Linked DNA regions of Homo sapiens: regions 2, 3, 4, 5 and 6 are each reported to be linked to region 1. The links are microRNA targets in miRTarBase. Many come from high-throughput screens and were not tested one by one. Region 1 holds a microRNA gene; each other region holds the end of a gene's coding sequence. Distances are between the middles of the regions.

What was found. Region 1 holds the annotated microRNA hsa-miR-3148 (UGGAAAAAACUGGUGUGUGCUU, at 2,807-2,828, shown strand). A microRNA usually pairs through its seed, bases 2 to 8, with sites in the 3' UTR of a target mRNA and lowers its output. Matches are read on the target gene's strand: a 7mer-m8 pairs with bases 2 to 8, a 7mer-A1 pairs with bases 2 to 7 and ends in A, and an 8mer does both.
Region 2: the mRNA of UBE2D1 is a reported target of hsa-miR-3148. Seed matches in the 3' UTR shown: 7mer-m8 at 4,112-4,118, 7mer-m8 at 3,844-3,850 and 8mer at 3,789-3,796.
Region 3: miRTarBase lists ANXA5 as a target of hsa-miR-3148. Seed matches in the 3' UTR shown: 7mer-A1 at 4,594-4,600.
Region 4: miRTarBase lists AMOTL1 as a target of hsa-miR-3148. Seed matches in the 3' UTR shown: 7mer-m8 at 2,912-2,918.
Region 5: the mRNA of ZNF101 is a reported target of hsa-miR-3148. Seed matches in the 3' UTR shown: 7mer-m8 at 3,102-3,108 and 8mer at 3,286-3,293.
Region 6: the mRNA of DUSP4 is a reported target of hsa-miR-3148. Seed matches in the 3' UTR shown: 7mer-m8 at 3,617-3,623, 7mer-m8 at 2,471-2,477, 7mer-A1 at 1,673-1,679 and 7mer-m8 at 1,125-1,131.

Annotation. Positions count from the first base shown.
Region 1 is chr8:29,954,672-29,960,145 of GRCh38, reverse strand. It overlaps MIR3148 (microRNA 3148), which reads left to right and starts at 2,798; the gene lies at 2,798-2,874.
Region 2 is chr10:58,367,886-58,373,359 of GRCh38, reverse strand. It overlaps UBE2D1 (ubiquitin conjugating enzyme E2 D1), which reads right to left. Exons shown (of 7, transcript NM_003338.5): 6 at 5,344-5,437; 7 at 2,612-4,640. The coding sequence ends at 4,595. Among named protein-coding and RNA genes, the nearest start is that of TFAM, 15 kb to the left of the region's middle.
Region 3 is chr4:121,663,624-121,669,097 of GRCh38, forward strand. It overlaps ANXA5 (annexin A5), which reads right to left. Exons shown (of 13, transcript NM_001154.4): 13 at 4,323-4,904. The coding sequence ends at 4,845. Among named protein-coding and RNA genes, the nearest start is that of ANXA5, 31 kb to the right of the region's middle.
Region 4 is chr11:94,869,539-94,875,012 of GRCh38, reverse strand. AMOTL1 (angiomotin like 1) reads right to left here. Exons shown (of 13, transcript NM_130847.3): 13 at 1-4,324. The coding sequence ends at 4,218. Among named protein-coding and RNA genes, the nearest start is that of CWC15, 100 kb to the left of the region's middle.
Region 5 is chr19:19,679,129-19,684,602 of GRCh38, forward strand. It overlaps ZNF101 (zinc finger protein 101), which reads left to right. Exons shown (of 4, transcript NM_033204.4): 4 at 53-4,378. The coding sequence ends at 1,172. Among named protein-coding and RNA genes, the nearest start is that of ZNF101, 13 kb to the left of the region's middle.
Region 6 is chr8:29,332,270-29,337,743 of GRCh38, forward strand. DUSP4 (dual specificity phosphatase 4) reads right to left here. Exons shown (of 4, transcript NM_001394.7): 4 at 795-5,142. The coding sequence ends at 4,757. Among named protein-coding and RNA genes, the nearest start is that of DUSP4, 16 kb to the right of the region's middle.

The DNA.
Region 1 (5,474 bases):
TTGTCAGTTTCCTTATAAAACATGGAGCCCACATCTAGTTTTGACTTTCCAGCTGTGCTTTGACCAGTGCAGAGTGCATAGGGATACTTCTCTTCTTGCATCACTATTGACATACTATTTTTGAATCAATGAAGACCAAGAACAAGATAATTATTTTTCTAGGAACCAGTTATCACTTTTTGGCTCATTTTAAGCTGGGTGGTTGACCCTAGCTCTGTTTTATATAAGTTACTGTCTAGTCAAGTTTCTCCTAAGCTTACTTGATTAATTTTTCAAACCTAAATGTAAATCTTCACATTAACCCTGTTTCATTTCATTTTAGTAATTTTGGCCCAGAACTCTTGAGTGTCAGGATTAATTTTGAATCTTGACTCATCATTTATTCTTACAACTCTCTCTTCTAGTACTGCAATAATCGTAGAGGTAGTATGCAAGCCTCTAATTTCTCTGTTTTTCAACCAGGCTGTTTCTCTGTAAGGACAAGGAAGGGAAGCTGAGGAAGATTTATTTAGCAACTATAATTTGCCAAGTACTGTGTCAGGTGCTTTACACATATTTTGTTATTTAATCCTCATAGCAACTGTATGAGACTGTAACTTCTTTTGTAAAAGGAGAATGGAAGTTCTTATCTTACAGTTCTGGTGAAGAATAAATGAGATAATTTAAATTATGTACTTATTAAAGTGCTGGCACACAGTAGGCACTTGATAAATATAAATTGCAGTTATCTCTATCCCTCTTCCTTCATCTTCTCTTTGGACAGAATCGGGAGAAGGACAGAAAGATATGTGATATGGTTTGGCTCTTTGTCCCCACCCAAATCTTGTCTCGAATTGTAATTCCCATAATCCCCAGATGTTGAGGGAGGGACCTTGTGGGAGGTGATTGGATCATGGAAGCCGTCTCCCCCATGCTGTTTTCATGATAGTGAGTTCTCACGAGGTATAATGGTTTTATAAGTGTTTGACGGTTCCTCCTTCACATGCTCCCTCTCGCCTGTCACCATGTTAGATGTGCCTGCTTTCCCTCCTGCCACGATTATAAGTTTCCTGAGGTTTCCCCAGCCATGCAGAACTGTGAGTCAATTAAATCTCTTTTCTTTATAAATTACCCAGTCTTGGGCAGTTATTTATAGCAGTGTGAGAATGAACTAATACAATATCCCATTAAATGATCCATCTCTCAGCTGCCACGGAAACACCAGTCAGCTCCTACCAGCATGACAGACAGTTTCACATCATGAATTATTTATTGTGCATTACAAATTGCCCCCAAACTTAGCAGCTTCAAATAATACACATTTATTTGCTCACAGTTTCTGTGGGTCAGAATCCAGGCACAGCTTTGGGATCCCTCATAAGAAGGCAACAGAAGTGCTGACCAGGGCTGCATTCTGATCTGAAAACTCAACAGGGAAGGATCTTCTTTCAATCTCACTCATGTATTTATGGACCCAGGGCAGTTCCTGGATGGGTGTTGCATTGAGGGCTTCAGTTCCTTGCTGGTAGTCAGGTGGAGGTCACCCTCAGTTCCCCACCATGTGTACCTCTTCAACTTGCCTCATCAGAGCAAACATGGAGAGAGTGAGAGCGTGGATAAAGACAGAAGTCAGTTTTTTGTAACCTAATACCAGAAGTGACATCCCATTACTCTTGCTGGACTCAGTTCTTTAGAAGTGAGTCATTAGGTCAAGCTCACATACAAGAGGAGGGAGTTACACAAAGGAGTGGACACCAGGAGGGAGGGGTCATGAGGGCCCTGCCAGCAGCTTCCAACCACATGCAATTATCTTCTTCATCAGCTCACCCAATGTATTCATTACTGGCAGTTCTGGGATATAAATCCAGGTTTCTAGGCCCTTGCTCTTTCCCCAAGAGTCTACCCTGGGAGGAATACTGATTGTCAATTGTAGTTGAAATTGTAAGCTGATTATGTAGCCATTTCTACCTACATTTTCTACATTTTTTTCCCTTGGCTTTGTTTTTGGGGCAAGTGCAATTTAGTTGTGAACATATTGCAATGAGGGGACTTTCCTCACATTTACTTATCCTTTATCCCCTCTCTCTCATTCTCTCAAGTAGTGTTTCAACCTCTTCAAGGCTTCAAATCTTTAACATTCTCACTCTCAGCAAATAGCTTTGTTTCCAGCTGCATAGAGAAAGTAGACAATATCAGCTGTGAACACTTTCAACTCCTGTCTCCCATGCACATGCTTCTCTCCTACTTTTTGGTTTGAGAGGATGGGAAGTCATTTCTTCTGTTTGCTCCTTCTTTGTAAAATTTCCTTTCCTTTCCTTCATATCTTAATTAATCAATTATTCACAATGTTGAGTCCACTGAGGACCAGTAAGCAGCCTTCTGTCTTTTCCACCTCAGTGCTGCACAATTCAGGAAGTGAATCAAAGAATAAAGACAGAGGCCACAGCAATATTATGGATAGAGCTGAGTTGGAGGATGTGGCTTGGTGTCTCTGTCAAATGGACCTGAGATCTGAACCCCAGGACTGGTCAGTTCTCAGCAGTGCTGTATGGTAGCCTTTACAGGTCAAAATTACATCATGGAGGAGCAGAGGCAAATTTGTGCCTTCTGTGGGCAGGTTCACTTCTGATAGGGCAAAGGGAAGACTTGAGCCAAGATTGCCATTTTCTTCCTAAATTTGCCAATCAAATAAGATAGAGTAAGCAATGTTAATTGAAGTCTTCCCACAGGAAGGCAATGTGTGGAATGGAGAAGGCTGCTTCAGCAACATCCTCTCCCATGCACCTTAAACGTCTCTTTCTTTCTCAGCTCCTTTCTGGAGTTAAGATGGAAAAAACTGGTGTGTGCTTATTGATGTAGCCAACAAGCATACATCAGTTTTTTCCAACTTAACTCCAGTATTTTCCCCAATTCATCCTGAAATTGCTGCCCTATCCATTCTCCCTCCTACACAGCCAAGATTCTTAAAAAACCAATCCAAATTTGCAGAATCTCCTCACTCATTTCTAACACATTTCTCAAGGGTTTTGACTTCAAAACTCAAGTAGAGTTTTGACTTCTACTCTCACCAGTGCATAGCAGTTGCCTTGGCAGGGGCCCCCAGTGACTTCCTGCTCATCAAAGCCAATGGACCTCTGGTGGTTTTAAGTTGAACTAACTTCTCTTTAATATTTAACCCTCCTGTACACTTCATTCCTCCAGAAAGGATCACTTATTTCCAGGCTTCATCGTTGATTCCTCTTGCCATGTTCACTATCAATGCTTTCCAGGACTCCTCTCAAATTTGATTAGTTTTATTCTGTTTACTCTTGGGTGAATTTTTTTTTCTTTGAGCTTTAACTGTCACCTCTTGCTAGTCACTCCTGAATATTCAGCTGGAGTCCAGACCTTTGTCTTGAATTCTAGATCCACATGGTACATTGCACAATCTGGCAATGCCAACCTTTCCACTCTCATATTTTCTACCTGTCTCCCCTTTACACACCCTGACCTAGCTATACTTTCCTGCATTATTCTTTGATCATTCTAAGCTTATTCTTACCCCAGGGACTTTGCACTTACTGTTACTTCTGCCTGGAATGCTCTTCCCCTAGAGGTGTACAAAGCTCATTTCTTTCATGTCTCTGCTTAAGTATCACAGCTTCAGAGAGTTCTTCACTCACCACTCCCACCTCTGTTTACATTTTATCGTAGAATTTATCACTATTCAAGTGTGTGCGTGAAGTGGGTGTGGTGTGTGAGCACACATATATGTGCTGATCCTAAAATAATTAAGTTCCTCAAGGGCAAGAACTTTGAATTATTCACTGGCATATCCCTAGTACCTATAATATGGATGCTAATGACACTTGTTTAATGGGTAAATGTTTGCTTGAAATTTGTCTTTATGACTCATCGTCTCTCACTAACTCCTACAAAGTGGTTTGTTACTAACATCCCTGTTTATGAATTTAATCTCAAATTTCTCTATTTAGTTTTCTCCTAAGTAACAATTTCAACAATTGAGGCTGGAATTTTATTTTCTTATAAGATTAGCTCAGAAAGCTAAATAAAACGCTTTGGGTTTTCTCATCAGAAAAAAGAAAGCTCAGGTGCACCGAGACTGGCCCCACAGTGTTTGCAATCGCTGTCATGATTGGGTTTCTGCAAGCTGGCCCCATGGGACAACTTCATCTTTCCTTTTCTGCCTGACGTCTTGCAATTGGGATTCCCGCTAGTACTGCCCTAAATCCTGGCAAGAAGACCTCTTGCTTTGAGCCCTATGCTTTAGAGAGCTCCACTCTCATCCTTCTTTGTTCCTTTCCCTCCCCATTAAGCAAGAAGTCCTTGGGATAAGAGAATAAAACCATCTGGACCCCATATATCTTCCTTCTGGAACACATTCCTGATACATGAGACCTCAGAATTCTCTGCCCAAATGGTCACAATTAAACTTCCAAGGCTTGTGGCCCTCTTTCTGAGGTCTTTCCTCTCTAGAGTGAAGTATGCTGACTGTGTGTGCCCACTTGAGCCAAGTGATGGTCAAATCATTACTGTTTCAAGGACCACGGGTGAAGCTTTAACTTACGTTCTTGGTTGTACACTGGACTGCTTGTGGTAGGAACTGGAGGTGGGAAGAGACCATTTTTCAGTAGATTTCTGGAAGTCTAAGGATTCTGAATTTGGGTATATTTGTGGAAGTAGCAATGTTTTAACTAGTGATGCTAGCTTGATATATAACTCATACATTGGATGTATAATCTATGTGGGCCTCCATTTGTACTCTTGGCCAAGGCAATGCTGATATTAGGGGTGAGCCTGGTTCCACAACTGTCTTCATAGAACTGCTGCCTTAGACTTATGTCTGTGTGGATGCACTGATTCTAGATGAGGTGTTTGCACTTTTTTTTTTTTTTAAAAAGACCTGAGTTTTTACATAACCAAAATCTTACCTGGAAACCCAGCATATAAATATAGATATAAAATGAATATATAAATATAAAGATGTTAAATAAGTATATAAATATAGATGTAAAAGGACTCTGGCTAACCACAGGAATGAAAGGCTCAGGGCTCTGTTGGCTCAGGGACTCCCCACTTTCGTCTCCTCCCTCCCTTTCTTGAGTAGCCTTGAGGCACAGCCATGGAACTCCAGGACTTCACGGGCAGACACAGTTCAAAAATTAGGGCTTTGATCAGCTTCTCACATTGGCATTTAGTGCACTTATGTTCCATGGAATGTCCTTGGAATAGTGCTATTTAAACAAGCTTGGCAGAAGCAGGGCACTCTTAGACCCCATCAGCAATCTCCACGTCCCGCAAAGTGAAATTCCTGCAGAAGAGAGACTGGTTTACCTTGTATAACCCAGAGTTTCTCTAGCATATCTTACCATGCAATTCTCTGCTCACAGAAGTCCTTTTAATAACTTGGTGAAATGTTATCTAAGACAATCCCCTAATGTGAAACAGAGCTACATTCCCATAAAATCTAGTCACTTATTTTTTCCCCTATAAAA
Region 2 (5,474 bases), not on the chromosome of region 1:
ATTACAAGGGGCCTGAATAGTCAAAACAGTACTGTGAAAGAACAGAGTTGGAGGGCACACACTTCCCCATTTCAAAAGCTACTACAAAGTTACAGTAAGCAAAACAGTGTCATACTGGGATAAGGCATATTGATTGATGGAATGGAACTGAGAGACCAGAAATAAACCTCTATGGTCAGTTGGTTTCCAACAAGGGTACTAAGGCCATTCAAAGGGAAAGAATAGTTTTTTTAACAAATTATACAGGCCTGATCTTTAGAATGGCCTGTTTACAAGGTTTGCCCTTGGCTGACATCTAGAAACCTGGCTTCTGAAACCATCCCTGAGTGATAAGATGTGCTTGCTGTGCTAGCCTGACTAGACTTCTTAAATAAACAATGTGATTTATGGTGAACACCTGCTTTCCTTCTAGAAGACTAGAATTTTGGAAAACAAAGGATGCTTATGTGATTAGCCCCCAATAAAAACCCTGGACTTTGCGTTTCACACTAGCATCCTAGGGCAGAAACACTATGCCCATGCTACTACTAGAGGAAGGCTTCACTCTTGTGGCCCCTTCAGGGAGAGCACAGGGAGCCTGCACGTGGATTCCTCCAGACTGCCTGGTCTGTCTTTCCCCCTTACTGCCCCCACTGTGTATCCTTGCCAGGTGGCTGTAATAAATCTTAACTGTTGAGTATGATGGTATGTTGGGTCCTGTGCATTCTTCTATCCACACGTTGAATGTGTGGGACTGCCAAAACAAGTGTACCAAAAGTGCTAACACAAGTGGTATCACAACTGTTCCCACAATATGTATATTAAGAGTTTATACTGAAATATTTCATATGCAATTCATGGTGATCTTTTGCACTCAAGAGATCTTAACAGTTTTTCCTGCCAAGTAAATTATATGAGGAAAGCAGAGTTCAGACCTTCAGCATATGCCAGTATAATAAAAGCAACCTCCTCTGAGAGAAGAAAGGCACATCTCTCCCTCGACAACAGTAGGACCTAAGAGAGTGCTAACCAAGTTTTTAGAGAAATGTTTCTTATTACATAAAATGCCCCCCAATACTAATACTCTCAGGTGAATTTTCTCTCTTCCTATTAGTTCAGTTCATTTACAATTTAAAGCCACATTCTTATATAACAGGATAATGGGAGCAGAATTGTAAATGTAACAAAATACAAATAAGGATATAACATCTATTAGGCTGTCACCAGGACACTATCAGCCGTCTACAAATTTTCAGTTATCACCACTACTGAAAAAAACTAGGGAAAACATATTAATTACACAGTTTAAGAAGAGCTTACAGACACATTACTCAGTTCAAAAACAGAGAGAGTAGAAATGACTAGTTATCTACCTATAAGAACTTTTGTAAGTGAAATTAGATGAGACTCTACCTGCTGCCCTATTTGTGCAACACAACCATCAGAATAAAAGAGAAGCATTATAAGACCTTTCATAAATAATCTGCATTACATTTTACAGCTATTAAATTGTGATTAAGCCTCTGCTTTAAAGAAAAAAAAATTGTGAAAATCCTACTTTACAGCTGAAAAGTGATAAAACTAATTTTTTAAAAATCAGATTTTTTATTGTAGTAATAATCACTTAAAAGACTGAAACAAACAAAGATAAACAGTACTTTCAACAATCTGAATACAATGAAGCTCTGTTTTTATGGCCATGGCTAAAGCACTGATCACATTTTTCATGGCTGGTCCTAAGAAGATAGAGTAACAGGACTGATGATTCTACTGCAGAGCTCAAATTTTAAAGCATTATCAACTGGGCTGGGCTTTTGTACAGTTCAAAATGACTACCAATAAACAGACATGATATAGTTTCATGACCAATAATTTCTTTTAATTTGGGAGGAAAATTAATTTCCTTAATCTCTCCATTTAAAAAATACAGAACTGTGGGAGAGCAGGATCTTGACAAACATCAATGACTGAATCATTAGATAGATCACTGTGATAAATAAGAAAAATTTAAAACTGCAATGTATTATTTTTTTCTTATGAAAAGTAACTTTTGAACGTTAACTCTTAGAGTTGTCCTTGATATGCAGTTCATTTATAATTTTTAATTTTCCCTATCAGCGTTTAAAAGGGGTGAAACAGGGAAATAATGCAAAAATTAATAAATAAGGTTGACGGAGGCATATATGTAAAGCTTGTACTTCAGGAATTGTACGCTTTTGAGATAGTTGGAGGATGGTGGTGAGGCTGCCCCTTACAACCCATGTCACTGATGTGGGTAACTGCTGTATATGGCAGTTATAAGCGTTCAGAATCCAATTTGAACATGGTTTTCAACTATGCAACTTCAAGAAGTGGGATCCTAAATCCCCAAAAGACTACCTATTTCTCTCACTCCAAGGAAGTCCTTAAATTAATGCTTAATCCACAAAAGGCCCTGACTTTTATTCTACAGTTTTAAAAGGTAACTGATGTTCTCCTTGTTAGAGTTAAGCAAAAATAATATACCCAAAATGGTGTTCTGACCGATCATGACGCCACTATGGAACTCAAGGTTTTTAGCTAATTATGAGAACTTCTGCTTACTCCTCAAGTCCAGTACAATCCAGATGTAAGCAAAGGCAAACAAGTTAGGCAAGTTTCAAAAACTTTAATAAAGAAAAAAAAGAAGACACTTCCAAAAATAAATGCCACACAAATGAAAGTTGTTTTTTTTTTTTGTTTAAAGTGAAGATATTCAAGAAACAAAACCCTTTACTATCAAAATATACTAAATATTTAAATCTAGTGATGTTGAGTGTTCAAATTCAGGGCAAATGTAGCTTATAATAATATAGCTAAGTAGAATTTTTCATGATATGGCTGTTTTAAGACATCATTTTATAGATTTACTTTTTAAGCCTATATTTTCTTAAACATCCATTTCACAATTCATTTAATTATTTTACATTCATTTATAAAAACACATATTTTCTAACAATAGGTTATTTTGTGCTTTAATAATAATGAACCATGACAAAATACTCAAGTGATTTAAATGCTTTGCTAATGACTACACCCATCACATATTCTTACATACTTCTACAGCTACTGCAATAATCAGAAGGGCTACAACTGTTCTTAAAAATGACACTCACTCAAGGTTGACAAGCATGCTAAACATTAAAGAGATGTATTTTTCCCCAAGTTAAAACATTAAAACTTTCTAGTTTTCTTTAAAATCTATAAAGATAACCTGCTTATTTAAATCACTTTTCGATGGCAACTTATAAAAACAGAGGGAGGCATAATTTTAGAACTTCCTTTGTAACTTCTATAGTAAAAAAAAAAAAAAAGTTTTTCAAATTGTGATGGCATTAAATTCCATTTTAGAAATTCTAGATTTTAAAATGTTAAGAAATGTAATGTCAATTACATCAGGGTGGGGGCATTTTAATGAATTAATCTAGTGACTGTGCAGGTCTATAAAGACCTTTCTTTTGGATGGGTGATACTGCCTTATACTCATTTCAGTACTTTTAACAAATAATCCATTTAGATATAATCCAAGACAAACCCCAAATTACTCTAAATTCTCCTCTACAGCAAGGGATCAACATATATTATCTTATAGACTGACAATTTAGTAAAGAGATACTAACCTAAAACAATAAAATTTATATAACTAATGGTGACTAATGGCAAACAAAATAGATCTGATTTTCACAATTTGGATGTAATTTTCATGCAAAATTTTAGAGTTTTGATCCTTACTTATATTTTTATTTTTTTAAGTAATCAAGACAAATAGTAGAAAAAGCATTTTATTTATATGGAAAAAGCTACAGTAAGATCTGTAAAAGGTGTCAATATAATATTGCCTATACAGGAAAAAATTCAAATGTGAATAGCAACAAATAAAAGTTACACATCTTCCTACTTAGCAGTGCAATTAATTCACATTGCAATAAAGTTAAGTCAAGTATAACAAAATCAAAACAAGTGTTTCTCCATAATCAGTATGCTGAGAATTACAGTGTAAAGATCATTTCAGATTTAAGAAATCTGCAATCAATCTACAGAATATCCTAAGACAAGGGAGACACAGTTAATTCACTTAATTATCAGCCGTTGGGGTTTTTCAATACTGTTCACAGGAAAAAAGTAATGAGTTGACATACATGTAAATAGAATATATTTAGTCTATACAGTAAAAAAATACAAATTATAAAGTGAGCTAACAAAGAATGAAATCTGAATACAGATTTATAAAACTGACATCTTAGACAACACATACAGTATTTCTCATGTAAAAACATCTAGTTTCAGCAAAAAATAATTTGGTTGCTTTTCAGCTGCATTGTAGATCTTGTAAGCTGAAGATGCAGATGTCCAAGTATCTTAAAAACCATAATAAATGTCTTTCTCAATGCATACAAAATGATAAATGCTCTCATCACAGTCTTAAGGGTATTTTTGGAAGTTTGTTTTGTCTTGCTTCAGAAACACATTTAAAATGGGTAAAAATCAAATGGTTTCATGGTACAATGAAACAGTAAACAGTGCTCAATTTACTGCTAATGTTGAAAAAAACCTAGATTTTACAGTACTCTGGTATATATGAAAATGTTTTTGATTTTTACATTGCATATTTCTGAGTCCATTCTCTTGCATGTCTGTTGTATCTGTAGATACACAAAAAGGATATAGTAAAAACATACAAAATTAATATTTCAGAAGCATCTGTCTAATAAAACTATATATTCTACCTTCTTATACTTAATTGCAATAATCACACATATATCAATTACTGGGTCAATGTGACTTAGGTTCATGCAGAAATAAAACAGGAAAAATAATTTTTTAACTCATGGATTTCTCTGCAACCTATATGAAAATGTATCCAAATACACAAAAATCAAAATGCAGAAACCAGCTTCTAACAGAAATTTACAAAAGCCAATCCTGAAGGAGCATTATCTACAAATTGCAAATGAACCTACAGTACTAGCAAGATGAAGCAGCTTGAGAATTAGGTCAGTTTGGATGGGTACGAGAGAACTCCTCTTCCTTGGAGAAGATAAGCAATATATATTTAATACTTTCCAATGATTAAATTCTTTCATTTTTAATTTATCACCTAGAATATATACATCTATTTTTCAAATACAGAGTATATACTATTGAACAGTAAGTGGGAAGGAACAAGATTTATCATAAAAGGTCTAACAGAGTTCTCAAAGAAAGGTTTACTCCATTGGAAAAAGATAAACAATATACATATAACAACCATAATCAAATTGACTTAAAACATATTGATAATATTCGTGTTTTGGCATACTATATAGGAATGTATCCATACAGAAACTAAAATAAGTAAACACTTACTTTTCTTTGTCTGATTTATAGATTTGTGCAATATCTGGTACTAAGGGGTCATCTGGATTAGGATCACAAAGTAGAGAACATATGGACAATAAAACTAGATTTAAAAGAGAACATCACATTAGACAATAACC
Region 3 (5,474 bases), not on the chromosome of region 1:
CCATGAATCATGAATATTCTTAATGGCTGTATTAATCTGTTCCCACACTGCTATAAAGAAATGCCTAAGACTGGGTAATTTATGAAAAGAAATTGAATTGATTCCACAGTTCTACAGGCTGTACATGAAGCATGGCTGGGAGGCCTCAGGAAACTTACAATCATGGCAGAAGGCAAAGGAGAAGCAAGTACATCTTACCATGGTGGAGCAGGAGGAAGAGAGAGTGACGGGAGAGGTGCTACACACTTGCAAACAACCAGATCTTGTGAGAACTCTATTATGAGACAACACTAGGGGATGATACTAAACCATTAGAAACCACCCCAGTGATCCAGTTACTTCACACCACTCAGCACTCAGAATCATAATTCAACATGAGATTTGGGTGGGAACACAAAGCCAAACCATATCAATGGCATCTAAAATGGTGAATCTTTTCCAGAATGTTTTCTATTTACTTTGCCCAGATCCATCAAAAGAATCACTATCTATGGCAGCTATGCCCTTATAAAGTACATTTTTTAATAAGACTTAAAGGTTGAAATTACTCCTTGATCTATGGAGTGCAGAATATATGTTGTGTTAGCAGGCATGAAAACAACATTCAGCTCCTCCTAAATCTCCATCAGAGCTCTTAAGTGATGAGGTGTATTGTCAATGTACAGTAATATTTTGAAAAGGATTTTTTTTCTGAGCAGGTCTCAAAAGTGGGCTTAAAATAACAGCAAACCATGCTATAAACAGATGTGCTATCATCCATTGTTGTACCATTTATAGAATGCAGGCAGAGTAGATTTAGCATGATTTTTAAGGGCCCTAGGATCCAGGGAATGGTAAATGAGCACTGGCTTCAGCTTAACATCACCAGCTGCATTGGCCCCTAAAGAGTCAGCCTGTTCTTTGAAGCTTTAGCCAGGCATTGATGTATCCTCTCTAGCTATAAATTGCATCTTCTAATAGAAGGCTGTTTGTTTACACTAAAAATCTGTGGTTTAGTGTAGCCTCCTTTATCAATTATCTTAGCTAGGTCATCTGGAGAACTAGCTGCAACTTCTGCATCAGCACTTGCTGTTTCAATTTGCACTTTTCTATTACAGAGACGGCTTCTTTCCTTAAGCCGCATGAACCAAAACTGCTCACTTACTTTTCTTCTGCAGCTTCCTCACCTCTCAGCCTTCATGGAATTGAAAATTAGGATCTTGCTCTGGATTGGGCTTTGACTTAAGGGAATGTTGTGGCTGGTTTGATCTTCTAACCAGACTACTCAAACTTTCTCTATATCAGCAATACGGCTATTTCACTGTCTTAATCATTCATGTGTTCAATGGAGTAGCACTTTTAATTTTCTTCAAGAAAGAAAATTAAAATTTACATTTATTCTCAATTTGGCTGTTTGGCACCAGTAGCCTAGCTTTCAGCCTGCCTTGGCTTTTGACCTGCCTTACTCACTAAGCTGAATCACTTTGAACTTTTCATTTAAAATAAGAGATGTGTGAGTCTCTTCCTTTCATTTGAACACTCAGAGGCCATTGCAGGGTTATTAATTGGCCTAATTTCAATATTGTTTTGTCTCAGGGAATAGAAAGGATCAGAGAGAGAGAGAGAAAGAGAGAGAGAGATGAGGGAACAGCCAGTCGGTGGAGCAGTCAGAACTCACATATTTATCAATTAAGCCCACTGTCTTAAATGGGCATGGTTCATAGCACCTTAATTATGACAGTAACATTGAAGATCACTGATCACAGATCACCATAAGATACATAATAATGAAAACTTAAAATATTGCAAGGATTACCAAAATGTGACAAACAGATAAAGAGTGAGCACATGCTATTGGAAAAATGGTGCTGATACACTGACTCAATGCAGGGTTGCCACAAACTTATGATTTGTTTAAAAAAATTTTTTTTTAATTGTTTGCAAAGTACAATAAAACAAGGTGTGTCAGCATGTACAAAGGAGATTAGATCTTTGTTGTATGAACTGTAAATGTTTTCCCGTTTGTCATTTAAATTGTCTTGGTGGTGATTTTCCCTCCCTCCCTCCCTCCCTCCCGTCTTCCCTTCCTCCCTTCCTCCCTCCCTTCCTTCCTTTCCTCCCTCCCTCCCGTCTTCCCTTCCTCCCTTCCTCCCTCCCTCCCTTCCTTCCTTCCTTTCCTCCTTCCCTCCTTCAGGCTCTCTGCAGCCTTGTGCTCCTGTGCTCAAACAATTCTCTCACCTCAGTCTCCCAAATAGCTGAGACCAGAGACGTGTGCCACCACATCCAGCTAATTTTTTGTTTGGTTTTTTAAAAAATAAAAATGGGGTTTTGCCATGTTGTCCATGCTGGTCTCAAACTCCTGTGCTCAAGCAATCCACCCACCTTGGCCTCCCAAAGTGCTGGAATTACAGGCATGAGCCACTGTGCCTGGCCTGCCTTCCATGTAGTTTTTGATTTTTAGGAAATCAAAAATAATCATCTTTTCTCCTATGGCTTCTGGATTTTGGGTGATAGAAAGGCCTCACACTTCAAGATCATTATGGCAGACATGGAACTGCACCACTTAGATCCCCTTTCAAGAAAATACTCAGTTCCAAGCTGTGAAAATGTGGGTTGCTGACAGCCTTCCAACTCTTAATCTCCTTCAGGTTTTGCCTCAGCTTTCCAGCCAAGCCAAGCTCTTCTCCAGAAGACACTTAGCCAATAATTGAGTAAGGAAGGTGGTGGCACAGGGCCCAGGCACTTCTGTCTCACAAAGGGCTCTTTGCAGGAACTCTTTGCCTCAGAGTTCCACATGATACTGGCAAAGATTTGGTCAGGTCTGCAGTGCAATCTGATGACACCCCTTGCCCAATCCTGCCTTCTACCTGTTCCATTCAATAAACCTGTTGCATCCCTAACTCCATCTCAGCATCTGCTTCCCAGAGAATCTAGAAGGTGCAGGTATGATGAAATCCCTCCATGCTTCTTTCTCATATGTTTATGATTTTATTTTTAAGTTTAAATGTTTCATTTTGAGAGTTACCTGATACATGAGGTATAGAAAAAGCCTTATATTTTCCTAGATGGCTCCCCAACTGTCTTCACACCATTTGTTAGAAAAAAATGCTATCTTTACCCAGCAAATTAAGACCTACCTTTAACATATACTAAATTTCCAAATGATTTGTTTCCATATCTGAACTTGCTGTTTTGTCTGTCTATTCATGCCACAGTATTATACTGTTTCAGCTATTCAGGATATGTAGTCTAATCTGTGTAAAGAATAGAAGAATAGTGCTCCCTCACTACTCTCAAGTTTTACTAACAATCCTTCCTTTTTTGCATGATGTTTACAATCAGCTTATCTAGTTCCACAAAAATTTGTCTCCCAATAAACTCACAGAGAGCTGGGAAGAAGGTCACTAAGTAAATAAATATAGCAAATGTTTTTTGTGGATTTTTATTTTTTTAATTCTTTTATTAATAAATTTTCAGATCCAGACCTACAGAAAATATAGCAAATGTTAAAGCTCACAGGTGGATTTCTCTTAAAGTGTTACTAATAAATAATCCAGGGCTTATATTTAAAGCCAGTGGCCTATTTTCAATAACAGAACAGAGCTCTTTGAAACATATCATCTTCTATGTGAAAAGTATAACCAACTGATTCTCAACTTGCCTCTGCATTAAAATTGCCTATGAGGCCTCTCAAAAAAACAAAAATCCAATATCATGTGTACACATACAGTTTTTAAGATTCCCCTGGTTATTCTGATGAGCATCAACGGTGGTGAAAAGAATATTATCACTATTTTAAAGTTTTCAAAGGAAGATTAGTTCATTTTATTTAAAAAAGCTTATTAATGGCAATTACTTGGCTTTAAAAAAAAAAATGCAACCAGAAGGGCATAAGTACAAAAAGAAAAATGACACCAACTGAAATGGCAGTTTGAAAACAGAAAACTGAAAGGCAAATATTAGAAGAGATCGATAAACTGCTTCTTTCTAGAAAAAATTATTGTCTTTTTTATTTATCTCAAAGAAAGTGACAGACAGTAAATGGGAGGCAAGTTCACAATAGGAAAGAGGAAAGAGAAAGGTAGTACTCTGAATTTTTGCATTAAGTTTTATAATTAGCTTTTCTACTAAGCAAGTAGCACCACAAGCATTGCTTTAATAGATGCCTAAATAAACATGGTGCAAATAAACCAGAGACCCCTTCGATCTTTCCTATATTTAGGAAAAATCATGTACTATGAAGGAAATTCAGTCTATGGTTTGCATTTCTTACTGCCCAAAAGACCAACTGTAAATTCAGTTCTCAACTAACACCACTGTCAATTATTAGCTTAAAAAGAGAGAACATTGTTAAATAAATTTAATAATAAATCTAAACACACATGTACACATAATTCAGGGGGACAGAAATGTTTATTTTTCATTAATCTTTTGAATACAATCATCATAATTTTACAGGTTTAGTTTAGTTGCGAACTTCACTAATAACATTTCCAAGAGTTCACAATTTCAAGGCTAAGCTTCTGATTAAAGTATCATGGTTACAAATGTAATATAAATGGAGTTTTTAAAAAAGGCTAAAAGCACTCTAGCCTCTTAAAAAATATATATAAATGGAAAATGGCCAGGCATTAAACTTAGTAACATTAAGTACACTTTAGTACTACAGCAGTCAAAGAGATCTCCACTAGAGATCAGAAAGAAGCACCACTATTTTCTTCTATGACGTGTATGTGTTGGTCATGAGCATGCTAGTATGAATAAGGCAATGTGTTAAGCACTGGCATACAAATGCAGCTAAAGGTGCTGAAGGAAGGCAGTGGGGTGGTGCAGGCACACAGCAGGGAGCTCTTCCCCGTGACACGTTAGTCATCTTCTCCACAGAGCAGCAGAAGAGCTTTCTTATAGTCCCCAGATGTATCTCCCTGAAACCAAATGTATTCCATTAACCTCCATGACTCACAGAAGCCATAGAAAATTTTAAAACTAAATAACTGGCAACAAATTTTATTCATAAGACTCTTCTCCCAAGTGGGTAATCTCTGTGACTTTCACATCAGGAATGTTATGCAGGGAGTTTCCTACCAATGTAACCTCAGACACTCAGTATTCCCTCTGGTAACACAAAGAATCAGGCAACTTTAACAACTATAGTCAAATCAAGCCTTCTAGACAGAATAGTTTCTATCACTTGGTATATATCAGCTAACACGGGCAGTGCTGGGGCTGCAGGGCTGTCATGGCTCTCCCTCCGAGACAGAAGGGCAGAACATGCTTTGCATCTGCTTGTCTCACATGCAGACATGCATGATAAATTAATGTTTCAAGCTAAAAGTGCATGGGTAAACTCTCTAGTGTCCTTTGGGCCAGCCAAACCACAAACATGCTAAACTAAAAGCTTCTGCTCAATTGAAATCTTGCTTTGCACATGGTCCACATTAACCTTTACTGGAAAAAAAAAAAAAAAGTCAAAAGACTTTAAGCTAAATGTAATT
Region 4 (5,474 bases), not on the chromosome of region 1:
AGAACATTTGTGGGATCCCACTGACTATGGTCATGGTACTCCTTTGCTTAAGAGGAGTGCAAGATCATTCAGAGAACACAGAGAAGCATGCTCCACTTACTCCAGCGTGGACACTGGTTTTGAACCCTGGTTTTGAAAAACACATCTCTTTGCTCAGCATAACTCCCTGCAGTCAAAACATGAGCCCCCTGCCTCAAAAGCTTTTAATGCCCCAATCTATTATCCACTGCTTCTGAGGTCCGCAGCCTCACCTGAAGTCTGTGTCCCTAAGTCTCTGGGACTCAGGTCAATGGGGAGGAAGAATTTCCCATTCTCTCAGCACCTGGCATGAAGGTGCTACAGCCACTGCATCATGAGGGTGCGCACCCAGGTGAGAACAAACAAGAGTAATGACTGGCTGCTCTGCACGGGGCATTCTGAACACCTCCTTCCTGAGTAACAGAAGCACTGAATTCTCTGTTCCAGGTTCAGAACTAATTTGTTGCAACTGTTTTGGTATCCATGCCAAGCCTTGTGGAGTCAAACTCATACATGAGTTCCAAAGAGCAACCCCAGAGGACTGCACCCAGAAGGGCTCCACCACTGCCTGCTCTCCCAACGAAAGCCTGAGGAGGGCCAAGGCAGCCCCTGCCCTGCGTGCATGGTTAGAACATGCTGAACTCTGCAGTGTCACTGGCTGCCAGCCTCTGGGAGGCAGAGAAAATGCTGAGAAGAAAACGCTAAGAAAGGGTTCTGCACATGCTCTGAAAGTTTTGGAAGATAATGTGTTTTTCCTGGCAGCTTAGCTATATGGACCTGCAGACAGTAATAGTTCTCATGTACAGAGGCATCTAATTAGTGAAACTCTAGCTTCAGAGACCTGACTCCAACTTCTCCAGTTCCATATAATATCCTGGCAGCACACAGAAACTGCCAGACAACGCAGTCAAGGGTGAAGCAGAACAATGCTGGAATACCTTCCCGTGAAGCCAGGGCCTCTCCCCTTCATCCTGAGATAGGACCCTCAAGTTCTATAATCAGGCTCCACTGGGAAAGTTTGAAGTCCAGGTCTCTGGGAAGTGCAGAAATATTTTTTAGGTATAGTTTGGAGCTGTGCTTCTGGTGGAACACAATAATTTCCATCTATGCCTAGCATTTATAGGTGATTCTAGGAGTTCTGGGCTTAGTCCTATTTCTTAGGCTCTGAGATGTGTGATAGCTGTGTGTGTGTGTGTGTGTGTGTGTGTGTGTGTGTGTAGTTACACGTGCACACACACATCACAGACAGGCATAGAGACTGCCAAGATGCAGTGCCGCATGTTAGAGGCTGTACAGCCAGGGTCTATGCCCAGTGCCTCTCCAAACTTTGTTTTAAATCATCCTAGCTTCTCCTGGCTGTGAGATTTCAGGAAGGGACTTAACCTTTCTGAGCCCATTTCCTCATCAGTGAAATCAGAATAATAAACGCACCCCCTGTACTCCAGGTGGGTGGAGGACTAATTAAAAGGTATTTACCACACTGTTTGCATACAGTTGACACTAGAAAATATAGTTGCATTATTTTTCTGAAAATCTGTTTAAGATATTGTAAGCTGCCCAGAACTCAGAGCAGGTACTCAGTATATGGCCGGACTTCAGGAAAGCTCTAATGATGAAAGAATTTAGTGCCCTGGCTTGGCAGGAAATTTCCCATAGAAGAAGACATTTTAAAGCTATAGATCCTGTTCTTAAGGAAGAGTCTCAGTAGGTTAAGAGAAAAAAAATACGGTCAAAGTCCAAAATACAATGCCGTTGAAGCCCTGAAACATGGCGATGTGTCTGTTTACAATGAAAACACTTGGCAGCTCAGGGGGACCTCGAAGAGCAAGCAAGTCTGACACCTGATTGGGGCAATCAGGTGTCTGGGGCATGAAGACGAGGCTTCGGGAGAAACAGCTGGGTCTCTCACTCTAACCTATGTCTAAGGGAGGCAGCCCAAGTTTGGGGTGGCCCAGACCTGATGGTAGGGGCTGGCAGAGTTGATTTACCTTCCTATCTCTAGACATTTTCCTTTCTGGTCCATCCCCAACATAAACTGGGGTCAAAATGTCCTTAAGAGAGTTAGCTGTCATCTCCTAACTCATCTCCTATGAAATGTGGTGGGAACAGAGATTAGGAAGGGATGTCTATGCCCTCTCCCCACCCATGTCCATCCTCAACCCTTTCCCCCATGGATGAGGCCTCCTGTGCCCTCTTCCCACACCCTATGGCATGGGGTGAGCTCCATGCTCAGCCTCTCAGAGCTCCTCAGTTTTCCTGTCTGCACAACAGGTACTCCGATGCTCAGTGTGAGACTAGAGGAGGTGATGAGCAGGTGGCACAATGTGCAGTGCCTATGGCCAAGCAGAGCCCCAGAGGGCCAGTTCCCACTCCTCTGTCGTACTGGGTGGCACAGAGGCTGGCCAAAGCCACTGATTTCTTCCCTTCCCTCTCCAGCTTACACCTCTTGTCTTCCTTCTGTCACCTCAATTTGGGGAGGCTATAACTTCACCGGGGTTACACACCCAAGACCAGTCCATTTTAGGATCCAAGCAAAGTTTCCTGAGTAGCACTCTCTTGAGTGTTTCATTTAGAAGGTACTTGGAAGAGGTACCCCCCTTTCTTTCTTCCTCTAAGTAAGCATGAGCAAAGGGAACTGGGAAAACAGCGATCCAGCTGACCTGGAGGTACAAAAACATCAGGACCCTGTAGGAGCATCTCTCTGATGGCCCGATGAGCTTCTCCTCTTTTCTAATCCAGCATCTCTTAGATTTGTAAAGGAAGCCAGTGTCTGCAGAGCTGAATATGCAATGTCACAGCAGAGGTCTAATGGACCCACCACCTAACACACTCCTGCCTCTTTTCCGTGGCACTTCTGTCTCACTTTGAATAAACTGCCTCAAAACTGAAACCCGGAAAAACCTGACAACACTGTATATACAACTGGCCTGGTAGGTTACAAAAGAAGTTCACAACAGAGGCAACCTGGTGCCACGGAGGTCTGGATGCTGATCGAGAGCAAGCAGAGGCGTGCGCGGGGGAGGAAAGAGTGTGAATACGCTCATGAGCCTCAATACAAGAAGCTATACGGGAGGCTGGTGAGATTCTGGAAACCACTGAGACAACTGTCTGTAAATTGTCATCTGTTTCCTGGAGTGCTGTCCTAAGTCTTCCCCAAACAGAGCAATGGAATTTGGAAATGTCAAGCTCCTTGCAAGACAGCCGATGTGAAAGACAAAAAAGCAAGTGCCACGATCTTAATGCAATATGTCACAGGGACCCACGGAATCTCCTGCCTCCTCAAAGCTTGCTTAGTTCACAGTCAGAATGAGGTTCGCAGCTGCAACCCAGCTATGCAAAGGTGAAGCAGCCAGGAAGTCGGCACGTGGCTTTGTCCTACTGGTCACTATCAAACACAGTAGGAATGATGACAGTTCAGGTACTGGTCTCATAAATCCCATACCTAAGGAATTCTGCTATGTCTTATTAAAAAGAAAAAAATGAAGGAACAACAAAAAATTAAAGACTGTAAAGCAGAGACAGAGATGAACTCAGAAGTTAGGATGGATGGGGACCGAGATCATAATCTATCCTGTTTAGAAAATACTGCAGAATTCAGAAAAGCTAAGAAGCCCAATCATCTCTTGAAAATCCAAACCAAACAGGTAATTAGGTGAAGACCAACTTTCATATTCCCCTCGCCCTCGATGCTTCTTCTCACTGCCACACTCACACTCACGGGACACCCCATGGTTGGCACAGGTGACACTGCATTATGCCAAGACAGGCTCTCAAGATTTCCTGGAGGCTTTTCTTAAATCAAACATGCTAAGAGGCAAGGAGAATGGGGGTATTCCAAGGATGATCCACATTTGGGTTTATCTGTTTATAATCAGAGAATGGGGGTACACAGGCCCTCCCCAAGAGATACATTTTCTGTACAATGAAAAATTCAGTTTCCTATTTCTTAACTTTGTTTGCAAACCTACACGCCTCTTCTCTCTTCCACCATGTGTAATAAAATCCATCGCATTCTCTTCTATCTTCAGTCATGTAGTTTTTGTGTTTAACATTTATAAAATGTGTTCTTATGAGTCTGAAATCTTTATCAGTTCAAATCATTCCTGATTTCCCATCTACAACCTTCTAGGTCTTTCTTCTTTCTCTGCCGCTTTCCTTGTTTGTCAGTGTTCTGTACTGAAATTCCACAGGGATGGCAGTTAGATGAGGACTTCCATCATCTCTCCATCAGGGAACTCGGGCTTGTGCAGCAAGCTGCTGACCCGGCCTCTGTGGTCAGGCGACTTCCCATGGCCAGGAGAGTTCTCTGCCAAATAGAGGGGAAACATCAGCTGCCCATTCCTCAGGAGGGGCATAGGCTTTCCAGGTTCTCTAAAATGGACCCACGTCCGATACCACTGCACACCCAGGATTCTCACCACAGGGCATGTGAGATGATCCAGCCCACAGTGGGAACATGCAGAATGACTGGGCCAGGATTCAGACACAAATACAAACCAGGATGGTGAAGGGAGAGGATTCAGAAGGTGAGGATGACAGTGGGACTCTGTACAGGAGCCCCTCACACCCTCTACTCAAAACTATCAGGTGCATATTCTGAGCTAGGCACTTTTGACAGGTTCTCTGGCTTACTTGGAAAAGAATCACATCTTTAAAAAGTGACAACATTGTATTTACTTGTCTACTTTGAAAAATGAAATAAACAACCCCCTTGGAGGAAACAGTTAACTTAGGGCCCACAGAGCCTGCACCTCCTCAAAAGAATTCCTGAAAAGGGAGGTCCCCATGACCATGATTAGTCTCAGGTTTTAGGATGTGGAGAAGCCAATGGTAGGCTGGGTACTCTCTGGCTACTTAAAGCCTTACCCATTTAAGAACATTTGTGGGATCCCACTGACCATGGCCATGGTACTCCTTTGCTTAAGAGGAGTGCCTTAAGAGGCCAGGTCTATTCTTACCCAGGACACTTAGGGACTCACTGCAAAGATCACCTCTCCCAAGTTGTCTTCCCGTAAATATTTTAAACAGCTCGTTAGTCCTGGCCCAAGTGCTGTGCCACACGTTAACCGACTCTGCAGGTCAATCTACCTTCTCCTTCCATCACAATGTCCTCCACTGAGGCCAGAATCCCTGGTAAGTTAGAGCCCTGAAGGCAACAGTGAACTTGTGCCTTTGATGTACCTGGTGCCTAATTCTGGCTCCCAAACATACCAGAGGGCATTCAGCCCCTTAGAGGGTCTGTTGTCACTCCATCCGGGGAAAGGTTAGTTAAAAAGTATGCATTGCCAGGGTAGTCTCAAGCCGTGCACTCATTTCAAATAGTAATAAACTAGATGTGTCTATATGCATATTTATTCCCGTAATAAGAAAGGGCACACATATCCTAAGTGCATTAGAATAGCATCCCCATAGAGTAAGAGCTGATGGGTGCCCCTGCTTCCTCTCTAGCTCAACAA
Region 5 (5,474 bases), not on the chromosome of region 1:
AGAAAAGCATTAATAAACCAAGCATTGATAATGCGTTTGTCATTTTTCATAGAAGTCTGGTGGAGAGACTCTGTGGACGTAAAGAAGGGAATGAACACAGAGAAACTTTCAGCCAGATTCCTGATTGTCACCTGAACAAGAAAAGTCAAACTGGAGTGAAACCATGCAAATGCAGCGTGTGTGGGAAAGTCTTCCTCCGTCATTCATTCCTGGACAGGCACATGAGAGCTCATGCTGGACACAAACGATCTGAGTGTGGTGGGGAATGGAGAGAGACGCCCCGTAAACAGAAACAACATGGGAAAGCCTCCATTTCCCCCAGTAGTGGTGCACGGCGCACAGTAACACCAACTCGAAAGAGACCTTATGAATGCAAGGTGTGCGGGAAAGCCTTTAATTCTCCCAATTTATTTCAAATCCATCAAAGAACTCACACTGGAAAGAGGTCCTATAAATGTAGGGAAATAGTGAGAGCCTTCACAGTTTCCAGTTTCTTTCGAAAACATGGAAAAATGCATACTGGAGAAAAACGCTATGAATGTAAATACTGTGGAAAACCTATCGATTATCCCAGTTTATTTCAAATTCATGTTAGAACTCACACTGGAGAAAAACCTTACAAATGTAAACAATGTGGTAAAGCCTTCATTTCCGCAGGTTACCTTCGGACACATGAAATCAGATCTCACGCGCTGGAGAAATCCCACCAATGTCAGGAATGTGGGAAAAAACTCAGTTGTTCCAGTTCCCTTCACAGACATGAAAGAACTCATAGTGGAGGAAAACTCTACGAATGTCAAAAATGTGCCAAAGTCTTTAGATGTCCCACGTCCCTTCAAGCACATGAAAGAGCTCACACTGGAGAAAGACCTTATGAATGTAATAAATGTGGTAAAACCTTCAATTATCCCAGTTGTTTTCGAAGACATAAAAAAACTCATAGTGGAGAAAAGCCATATGAATGTACAAGGTGTGGTAAAGCCTTTGGGTGGTGCAGTTCCCTCCGAAGACATGAAATGACTCACACTGGAGAAAAACCCTTTGATTGTAAACAGTGTGGTAAAGTCTTTACTTTTTCAAATTACCTTAGACTTCATGAAAGAACTCATTTGGCCGGGCGTAGCCAGTGCTTTGGCAGGAGGCAGGGGGATCACCTGAGCCCAGGAGTTTGAGACCAGCCTGGGCAACATAAGAAGGCCCCATATCGGCTGGGTACGGTGGCTCACGCTTGTAATCCCAGCACTTTGGGAGGCTGAGGCGGGTGGATCACCTGAGGTCAGGAGTTCAAGACTAGCCTGGCCAACATGGTGAAACCCCGTCTCTACTAAAAATACAAAAAAATTAACTGGGCATGGTGGTGGGCACCTGTAATCTCAGCTACTCGGGAGGCCGAGGCAGGAGAATCGCTTGAACCTGGGAGGTGGAGGTTGCAGTGAGCCGAGATCACGCCATTGCACTCCAGCCTGGGCGACAAAAGTGAGACTCCATCACACACACACACAAAAAAGCCCCATATCACGTGGTGGCTCATGCCTGTAAAACCAGCACTTTGGGAAGCCGAGGTGGGTGGATCACGAGGTCCAGAGATGGAGACTATCTTGGCCAACATGGTGAAACCCCGTCTCTACTAAAAATACAAAAATTAGCCAGGCGTGGTGGTGTGTGCCTGTAGTCCCAGCTACTCGGGAGGCTGAGGCAGGAGAATTGCTTGAACCAGGGACTTGGAGGTTGCAGTGAGCCGAGATCGCGCCGCTGCACTCCAGCCTGGTGACAGAGCGAGACTTCGTCTCAAAACAAACAAAAAAAAGAAGGCCCCATATCTCCAAAGAAAAAAAAAATTAACTGGGTGAGGTGGTGCATCCCTGTAGTTCTAGCTGCTCAGAAAGCTGAGGTGGGAGGAACCCTTGAGCCTGGGAGGTTGAGGCTGCAGTGAGCTGAGATCGTGCCACTACACTCCAGCCTGGATGACGGTGACACTCTGTCTCAGAAAAAAAGGGAAAGAAATAATTCTCATTTATACAGGAGAGAAATCCTATGAATGTAAGGAATATGGGAATACATTCAGTTTCCAAAGATATGAAAAGACTAACTGGAAAAAAATCCAAAGACCTCAGATATTCCAGTTCTATTCAGAGCCATAAAAGGACTCATACTGGAGAAAAATTGTAGAAATGTACAGAATATGGGGAAACTCTCATTGCTCTCATCTCCATTCAAAGACACGTGTCAGTGCACACTGGAGATGGATGGTATGAATCGAAGAATACACACTGGATGGAAACGTTAGTAGTTTGGAAAATACAGGAAACTTCCATTTTAACAATAATTAAAATTCACATGGGCTGTGCACAGTGGCTCTCCCCTGTAATCCCAGCATTTTGGGAGGCTGGGGTGGGTAGATTGCTTGAGGCCAGGTATTCAAGACCAGCCTGGCAACCTGGAGAAATCCCATGTATACAAAAAATAGAAAAGTTAGCCAGGGATGATGGTGTTCGCCTGTAGTCCCAGCTACTCAGGAAGCTGAGGTGGGAGGATTGCTTGAGTTTGGGAGGTCGAGGTTGCAGTGAGTGGAGATTGCGCCACTGGACTCCAGCCTGGGCAACAGTGAGACCCTGTCTAAAAAAATTAATCATGTGAGAACATCCACTCGAAAGAAATCCTATAAACGTAAGTAATTTTGAAAGCCTGATGCAAATTAATTATTATATAATGCTCAAAAACTTAATCATGAATGAGTTATTACACAAAGTTATAAATATATAGCATTTATCAGTGGCTCATTCTTTTTTCTTTCTTTTTTTTTTTTTTTTTTGAGATGGAGTTTTGCCCTGTCGCCCAGGCTGGAGTGCAGTGGCACAATCTCGGCTCACTGCAACCTCCGCCTCCTGGGTGTGAGCAATTTTCCTGCCTCAGCCTCCTGAGTAACTGGGATTATAAGCACATGCCACCACGCCTGGCTAATTTTTTTGTATTTTTAGTAGAGACGGGGCTTCACCATGTGGTTCAGGCTGGTCTCAGACTCCTGACCTTGTGATCCGCCCTCCTTGGCCTCCCAAAGTGCTGAGATTACAGGTGTGAGCCACCGCGCCTGGCCTTTTTTTTTTTTCCCGAGACACAGTCTCACTCTGTTGCCCAGGCTAGAGTGCAGTGGCGCGATCTTGACTCACTGTAACCTCTGACTTCTGGGTTCAAGCAATTCTCCTGCTTCAGTCTCCGAAGCATCTGGGATTACAGGCGCACGCCACCATGCCCAGCTAAATTTTTGGTATTTTTGTAGAAACAGGGTTTTTCCACATTGGCCAGGCTGGTCTTGAACTCCTGACCTCAAGGAATCCATCCTCTTCAGCCTCGCAAAGTGCTGAGATTATAGGCATGAGACACCTTGCCCGGCCCCTGTGACTCATTCTTAAAAAGGATCTTTGGATTATGGGTTTCCACTTTTGCAAGGAAATGTGAGAATGATACTCTTTAAGCAGTGGTACCTGAGGTTTAATAGGAAGTGTTTTTATCCTAAGTTAGTTAATAAAATTTTTTTCTATCCATTTTGGTTTTCATTTTTTTCTATCCATTTTAAAGTGTTGGATCTGTGGGTGAAGTGAAATTTATTTCTAATATGTAAGCAGGTTTAATTTTTATGTAGTGTTTAATTGTTCTGTGATGAATGGGCCATTACAAAATGAGTCTATTTTTGTTTGTTTTCTTTTGTTTTTGAGACTGAGTCTTGCTCTGTCGCCAGGCTGAAGTGTAGTGGCGCGATCTTGGCTCACTGCAACCTCCACCTCCCGGGTTCAAGTAATCCCCCTGCCTTAGCCTCCTACAGGCGCGTGCCGACATGCCTGGCTAATTTTTTGTATTTTAGTAGAGACGGGGTTTCATTGTACTGGCCAGGATGGTCTTGATTTCCTGACCTTGTGATCCACCCCACCTTGGCCTCCCAAAGTGCTGAGATTACAGGAGTGAGCCACTGCGACCGGCCCATGAGTCTTTATTAATAGAGATTTCTTACTGGTGTTATGTGGCAGATTCTGCATATTCCTCACCCATCATATGTATTCCACTTTCCTTTATTATGGGGAAAACTACTCTTTTTGGCATGATACAATGTTGACTCCATTTTCTTTGCTAATAAGGACTTGGTATCAATTTATCAGTATGTAAAGTTTACCATAGAGTATTGTCTCATGTGAATCATTCCCATTTTTTGCTCTTTACTCTTTGTCGTTATTTCTGAGTATTATTTGGATGGTTCATTTTGACTTAAGGATAGCCCTGTGATATGACAATATTTTTATCTAATCTGATGGAGAAAGCATTTAGTCTCCTGATCAAGTATGATGTTAGCTGCAGGTTTTTAATAAATGCCTTAATTCAGTTTGAAGAAGTTCCCTTCTGTTCATTATTTATTGAGTGTTTCATCAAGTTGTATTGAACTTTTTTGCATCTATTGGGATGATCCCCTTTTTTTTTTTTTGGAAACAAAGTTTCACACTTCTTGCCCAGGCTGGAGTGCAGTGGCACAATCTTGGCTCACTGCAACCTCCGCCTCCCAGGTTCAAGTGATTCTCCTGCCTCAGCCTCCCAAGTAGCTGGGATTACAGGTGCCCTCCACCACGACTGGCTAATTTTTTGTATTTTTAGTACAGGTCAGGTTTCACCATGTTGGCCAGGCTGGTCTCGAACTCCTGACCTCAGGTGATCTGCCCGCCTCAGCCTCCCAAAGATCCTGTGGTGTTTAGTCAGTTTTGCATTGCTGTAAAGCAATGCCTGACACTGGGTAATTTGTAAAGTAGAGATTTCATTGGCTCACGATTCTGCAGGTTATAGAGGAAGCATGGTATCACATCTGCTGGGTTTCTGGTGAGGCCTCAGAGCTCTTACTCTTGGCAGAAGGTGAAGTGGGAGTAGGTATGTCACAAGGCAAGAGTAGGAGCAAGGGAGAGAGAGGGGGAGGTCTCAGACTCTCTTGAGTGAGCATTCACTCATCCCTAAGGGATGGTGCTAGGCCATTCATGACGGATCAGCCCCAATGGTATGATACTTCCCACTAGGCCCAACAGCCAACACTGGGGATCACATTTCTTTTTTTTTTTTTTTTTTTTTTTTTTTTTGAGATGGAGGTTTGCTCTGTCGCCGATGCTGGAGTACAATGGCGCGATCTTGGCTCACTGCAACCTCCACCTCCTGGGTTCAAGTGAGTCTCCTGTCTCAGCCTCCCAAGTAGCTGGGATTACAGGCACACCACTACGCCCAGCTAATTTTTGTATTTTTAGTAGAGATAGGTTTTCACCATGTTGGTCAGCCTGGTCTCGATCTCCTGACCTCGTGATCCGCCCGCCTTGGCCTTCCAAAGTGTTGGGATTACAGGTGTGAGCCACTGTGCCCAGCCTGGGGACCACATTTCAACAAGAGATTTGGAGAGGACACATCTAAGTCATATAATTCCACCCCTATCCCTCCAAATCTCATATTCTCAT
Region 6 (5,474 bases), 620 kb from region 1:
AAGACCAGCCTGACCAACATGGAGAAACCCCATTTCTACTAAAAATACAAAATTAGCCAGGTGTGGTGGTACATGCCTGTAATCCCAGCTATTCCAGAGGCTGAGGCAGGAAAATCACTTGAACCTGGGATGTGGAGGTTGTAGTGAGCCGAGATCGTGCCATTGCACTCCAGTCTGGGCAACAAGAGCAAAACTCCGTCTCAAAAAGACAAAAAACAAAAACAAAAAATCAGCCAGGCAGTAATGGCACGTGCCTATAATCCTAGCTACTCAGGAGGCTGAGGCAGGAGAATTGCTTGAGCCTGGGAGGCAGAGGTTGTGGTGAATCGAGATTGCGCCACTGCACTCCAGTTTGGGCGACAGAGTGAGACCCTACCTCAAAAAAAAATTAGTCTGGTGTGATGGTGTGCACTCATAATCCCAGCTACTCGGCAGGCTGAGGCAGGAGGATTGCTTGAGCCCAGGAGTTCAAGGTTGCCGTGAGCTACAATTGTGCCACTGCATTCCAGCCTGGGGGACACAGTGAGACCTTGTCTAAGAAAAAAAGAAAAGAAAAGAAGAAAAGGAAAGAGACACAGAGAGAAGGAAAGAGAAAGAAGAAAGAAAGAAAGAAAAGAAAAGGGCTCCATGAAGAAAAGAAAAAAAAAGAAAAGAAAAGAAGGTAAACAAATGGACTCCATCTCCACTGCGCTATTAAGTGGGCAAGATTATTAACTGACCCAGCGGTTCTTTCCTCCCCTTCCAAGTCATAACAGCAGAACAGTTTTCAAGGAAAGGTCTAACCAAGCCAGAAGTGGTTGAAAATGTATTTATTTTTTTCAAATGATCTTTTTCAAGCAATAAATAAAACCAGACATATTGACTTCTAAAAAACAAAACCAAACAAAAAAAAAATCCCCTAAACTATATACATCCTACAGGAATACAGGCATTATCAAATGTAGAAATGGTATCACTCTGAAAGATGGGGCTATTTACACAAGTTACAAGAATTGCGTTGCTGTCTTTAAGAAGTCTCCTCCTTGAATAACTCATAAACTCTAAGGGAGAGAGAGTACTGGTGGGGAAGCGGGGTTCAAAGAGGAGACATCCTCCATCTTTATTGATGGACAAGACAGTCTCAAGGAAAAACATCAATATCCAAACACCGTATTGAGTCCCTTAACAAGGCTCCACAGATCAGCTGGCTTTCAAAAAGCCTGGAAGGGTGCTCCACTCAGGAACTCCCAAGAGAAACCATCTTGTCCCTCAGCCAGGCTGGGACTGGCAGTGAGGCCATGCTGAGCCAGTGGCAAACCCGTGGCTGTGGTTTCCACAAGACAACCTGGCTCTGTGCTGTCACACCCAGCCTCCAACAGCGCCTTGACATCCAAAAAGCATGGCAGTTTCCCAAGCTCGGCTGCACAGGGAAAACACCCGGGGAGCTACGAAACACACTGATGCCTGAGTCCCCCACCTAGAATTGGTTGAACTGGTCTAGGAGAGCCTGGGTATCAGAACTGTATAAGTTCCCCAAGTAATTCCAATGCGGGACCATGGCTTTACTACTACAGGCTTGGTTGATGGCCAATTCCCAATCTCCAGCCTCTTCCTGTCATGTTGGAGTCAACTATCCTATGTCCCTCTCTCCATCTTCCCAAGATTTAAAAACCTTTCTCATGGCTTCCCAAATTGGAAAACTCTCTGGAATCCAGCGTGGATGAGCAACTGAACAAAATGGCTTTGGGAGGGAATGATGGGAGCTGGGGCCTACCAGTCACCTGCTCTTCAGCCTAATACTGCTCTGTGGGAAAACTTGGTCCATTTCCCCCAGGGCTCCTCAACACACACCCCTGGGTCAGACGTTCTGGGAGGGAATAGGCAGCATTCCTCACTCTACAGAACACCCAATGAGCATCCTGTCTTTCATGGCTAATACCAAAGTTGACAATCAATGAGGGTCAATGCTTTCCTGTCATTACAGAAACTTCCCATCACCAGAATCCCTTCATGGGAGGGATGGATGCCTGTTGAAACTCACTGACCTATTGGACTGACGCTGGGGTGGTATCTTCATCAGAGCTATTGTAAGTCATCCAAAAGGCTTCTGACGAAAGAACAATTTTTAAAAAGTCCCTCTTTTCAATCAAGCCAATGTCCTATTTTATTTCTAAAAGTTTTGGGACTCGTGCTGTTATCAAGTACAATGAAAATGGCTTTATAAATAGCTGTTTTGACATTGTGATAGAAGGCTTGAATTCGGAGGAAAGATGTCGCTGGAGCTAGTCCTGAGTTCCGACTGTCCCTGTGGTGGGAATCCAGTCTGGGAAAGCAGGACTGTTTTAGCAAACGTGTACTCGTTCTATAAAAATGGAATCTGTTCTGCAGGTTACCGTCCCTCCCCGCCCAAGCATCCCCTCTGTCCTGTCTCTCTGCTGCTGGGACCCAGGGCTTTTTCAGCTGCAGAACCCACTGGACTTCCAGGAATCAAGGAAAAAGTGGAAATGTCCAACTGTGTTGTCTCTAAATGGTTCCATTGTCTGGGAACTGAAACCCTCCATGCTTCACCCTGAACTGTTATTTCTAGAGGAAGCAGGGAGCCTCTGGCTCTTCTAAAAATTGCCAGTGGGAGCTCTGGCCTCACCCACAGGCGGAGCTTGGTGAAGTCAGGATGAATGATGCCGTCACAGGTTCATGGTTCATGGAAGGAAAGGTAACCAACCTTGTCCTGTCTAGGATGCCAGATGAGAAAGAGTATCCCAACGTGACGGTGACATTGAGGCTTGACGTTATTTATGGGTGAGCAAGAATGTTCATTAGATGTAGACTCTCAAAGGGCTAAAAAAAACCATGCTCTCACTTCTAGACAAGTTTGCAACAACCTCTAAGCTGGCACTCCATAACAAGACTGTTCCACAATACTACAAACAAAATAGCATGTAGCTTGTTCCCTCCTCCCTCCCCCCCAAACCCTCCCCACAGAAAACGTGTCTCCCTCCAAAGCCATTCTCCATTTAGAAAGGCCCAACTAAGGATTCAAAATGGCACCCACGTGCCGACGATAGATTCAAAATGGCGCCTGCGTGCCCATGACGCACGTCACGGGAGCCAGCGGCCAGCCCCCTCACCAGCAGTCAGCCCCAACCCCACCCTGGCGCTTTGATTTCCAGTTTGGGAAATTCATACCAATGGAATCCGATGTAAGCAATCCACCATCAGCTCACTGATGCTCTCTTGCCCTTCCACACTTCGAGAAGACCTGAAATGTGGTGTCCATTCCCCTCTTTATTCAAAAGAGGACCTTCAAAAATATTCACCTAACTAGGAATTTAAAGAACACAAGAAATTGTTGGTATATTTCACTTCAGGTAACTGCCCTAAAATTAAAACCTCCAATTTATGCAAAAAAAGAAAAGATGGTGCTTCAATTTACAAAAGGATTCATTTCAGGGTTATCTCTAGTTGTCTGGTTTCCCCAATGGCTGGCCTTGCCAAATGATTTGCTGTAGGAAAATTTGAACTGCACCCAATTTTCCAGGAGCACCTTAGTGTAATATGGCATATTGATCACAGACGATAGACAAGTCTTAGGCAGGTTTATGCAAAAAATGCTGCAACCACCCAGTGATCATCGGAGGGAAAAAAGCTTGACTTACTGTGGTCTAAAATTGCTTCGGTGGCCTACATGCCCATGAACCAGCTTCAAAAGCAATTCACATTGGTCATGATGACACACACCTGCAGTCCCAGCTACTCAGGAGGCCGAGGTGGGAGGATCTCTTGAGCCCAAGAGCTTGAGATGAGCCTTGGCAACATAGTGAGATGCTGTCTTTTTTTTTCTTTTCTTTTTTTTTAAAAAAGCAATTCAAACCTAATTCTTCCCTTTCTTCCTCCTCCCACCCAACCCGCCTGCTTCTCAAGATGAGCCTTGGCAACATAGTGAGATGCTGTCTTTTTCTTTTCTTTTTTTTTTAAAAAGCAATTCAAACCTAATTCTTCCCTTTCTTCCTCCTCCCACCCAACCCGCCTGCTTCTCAGTGGCAACAAACTCAAGTTGCTCATCATGCTACCTTGCACATATCTACAAGACACCATTTACTTCCTAACTGCCTTGACATCTGCATGCTACGGTGCTCAGCTGTTTGACATCAACATAAATATATTCTAAATCCACTGTAACTAGACTTTTTGTACTTTCATACTCTGAAGAAAGTCTTAATAAATACTTTATTATTAAGCATAATTATTCATCTGTTGGTGACTGAGAAATGAAAACCACACCTTCGAAGATTTCTTTTAAAAAATGAAATTCCTTTAACTACAACAACGACAACAAAGGGACAAGTACACAGAACCAGGCACTTCTGGGAAACTTGTCTTCTCATCCCTTTGCCCTCCCTTCCTCCCCCTTTAGTAAAGCTGGTTGGGCACATTTGCTAGGATCTGTGGGTTTCATCACTTCAAGCCTTACTGCTTAAAAAAATGAGGTAAGAAATTTCTATCGGAAAAGTGAAACTGACACATAAACCAAACCAAGGTCTTCCCTGGCTGCTGCGGCAGCCGTTATTGCTCTAAGTTGGAGTGTTCTGTTTGCTTTTATTATGTATTCGGAGTCCTTATTGCCATTCTGGCTGGCCTCGTCGTTGGCCAAGGAGAAATGATGGGGAAGGAGCTCGGTCGCCTGCTCCCAGCTGCTCAGTCCCAACTTTCTGCCCGCATGCGGCCCGTCCTACCCTTGCTGGGAGCCAGCTCTGGTTCTGGGGCCCCCAGGGCGGCTCTAACAGCTGGGAGAGGTGGTGATGGGGCTGTGCAGGTAGGGCAGGCTGCTGGGGGCCGAGTGCACGCCCACGGAGACCGGAAAGCTGAAGACGAACTGCGAGGTGGGGGTGGCGGGGGTCTTGCCCCGCTCCCGCAGGGGTCCCGAGGGGCTAGCAGCCTCCGCAGCACAGGACGTGGCCAGCACCTGGGACTCGAACTGCAGCAGCTGCCCCATGAAGCTGAAGTTGGGCGAGATGATGCTGCGGCGCTGCTTAACGAACTCGAAGGCCTCCTCCAGCCTCACCCGTTTCTTCATCATCAGGTAGGCCAGGCAGATGGTGGCCGACCGCGAGATGCCCGCCTGGCAGTGCACCAGCACGCGCCCACGGCAGTCCTTCACGGCATCTGGGGACAGGGTTCAATAGGTTAGTGCACGTTTCTGCAGACCCCAGCCCCGACCAGGGGCACCGGCCAGCCCCTGGGGTCGGGGGGCTCTGAAGGAAGGACTAGCCGTGCTAGACCAAGGACTGGAGAGGAAGAAAACCCATGTAGGCAGGTCTCTAGAATGCCCCCAATTCTGAGGTCTATTTTCCCGAATCACTATGCTGAAGCTGGTTAAATCCTATTATCTGTTCAAGGATTTCCCTTTGCAGAAACAAAACAGTGGGGTCCAGGGTGGTGGCTCACTCCTGTAATCCCAGCGCTTTGGGAGGCCAAGGAGGGTGGATAACTTGAGC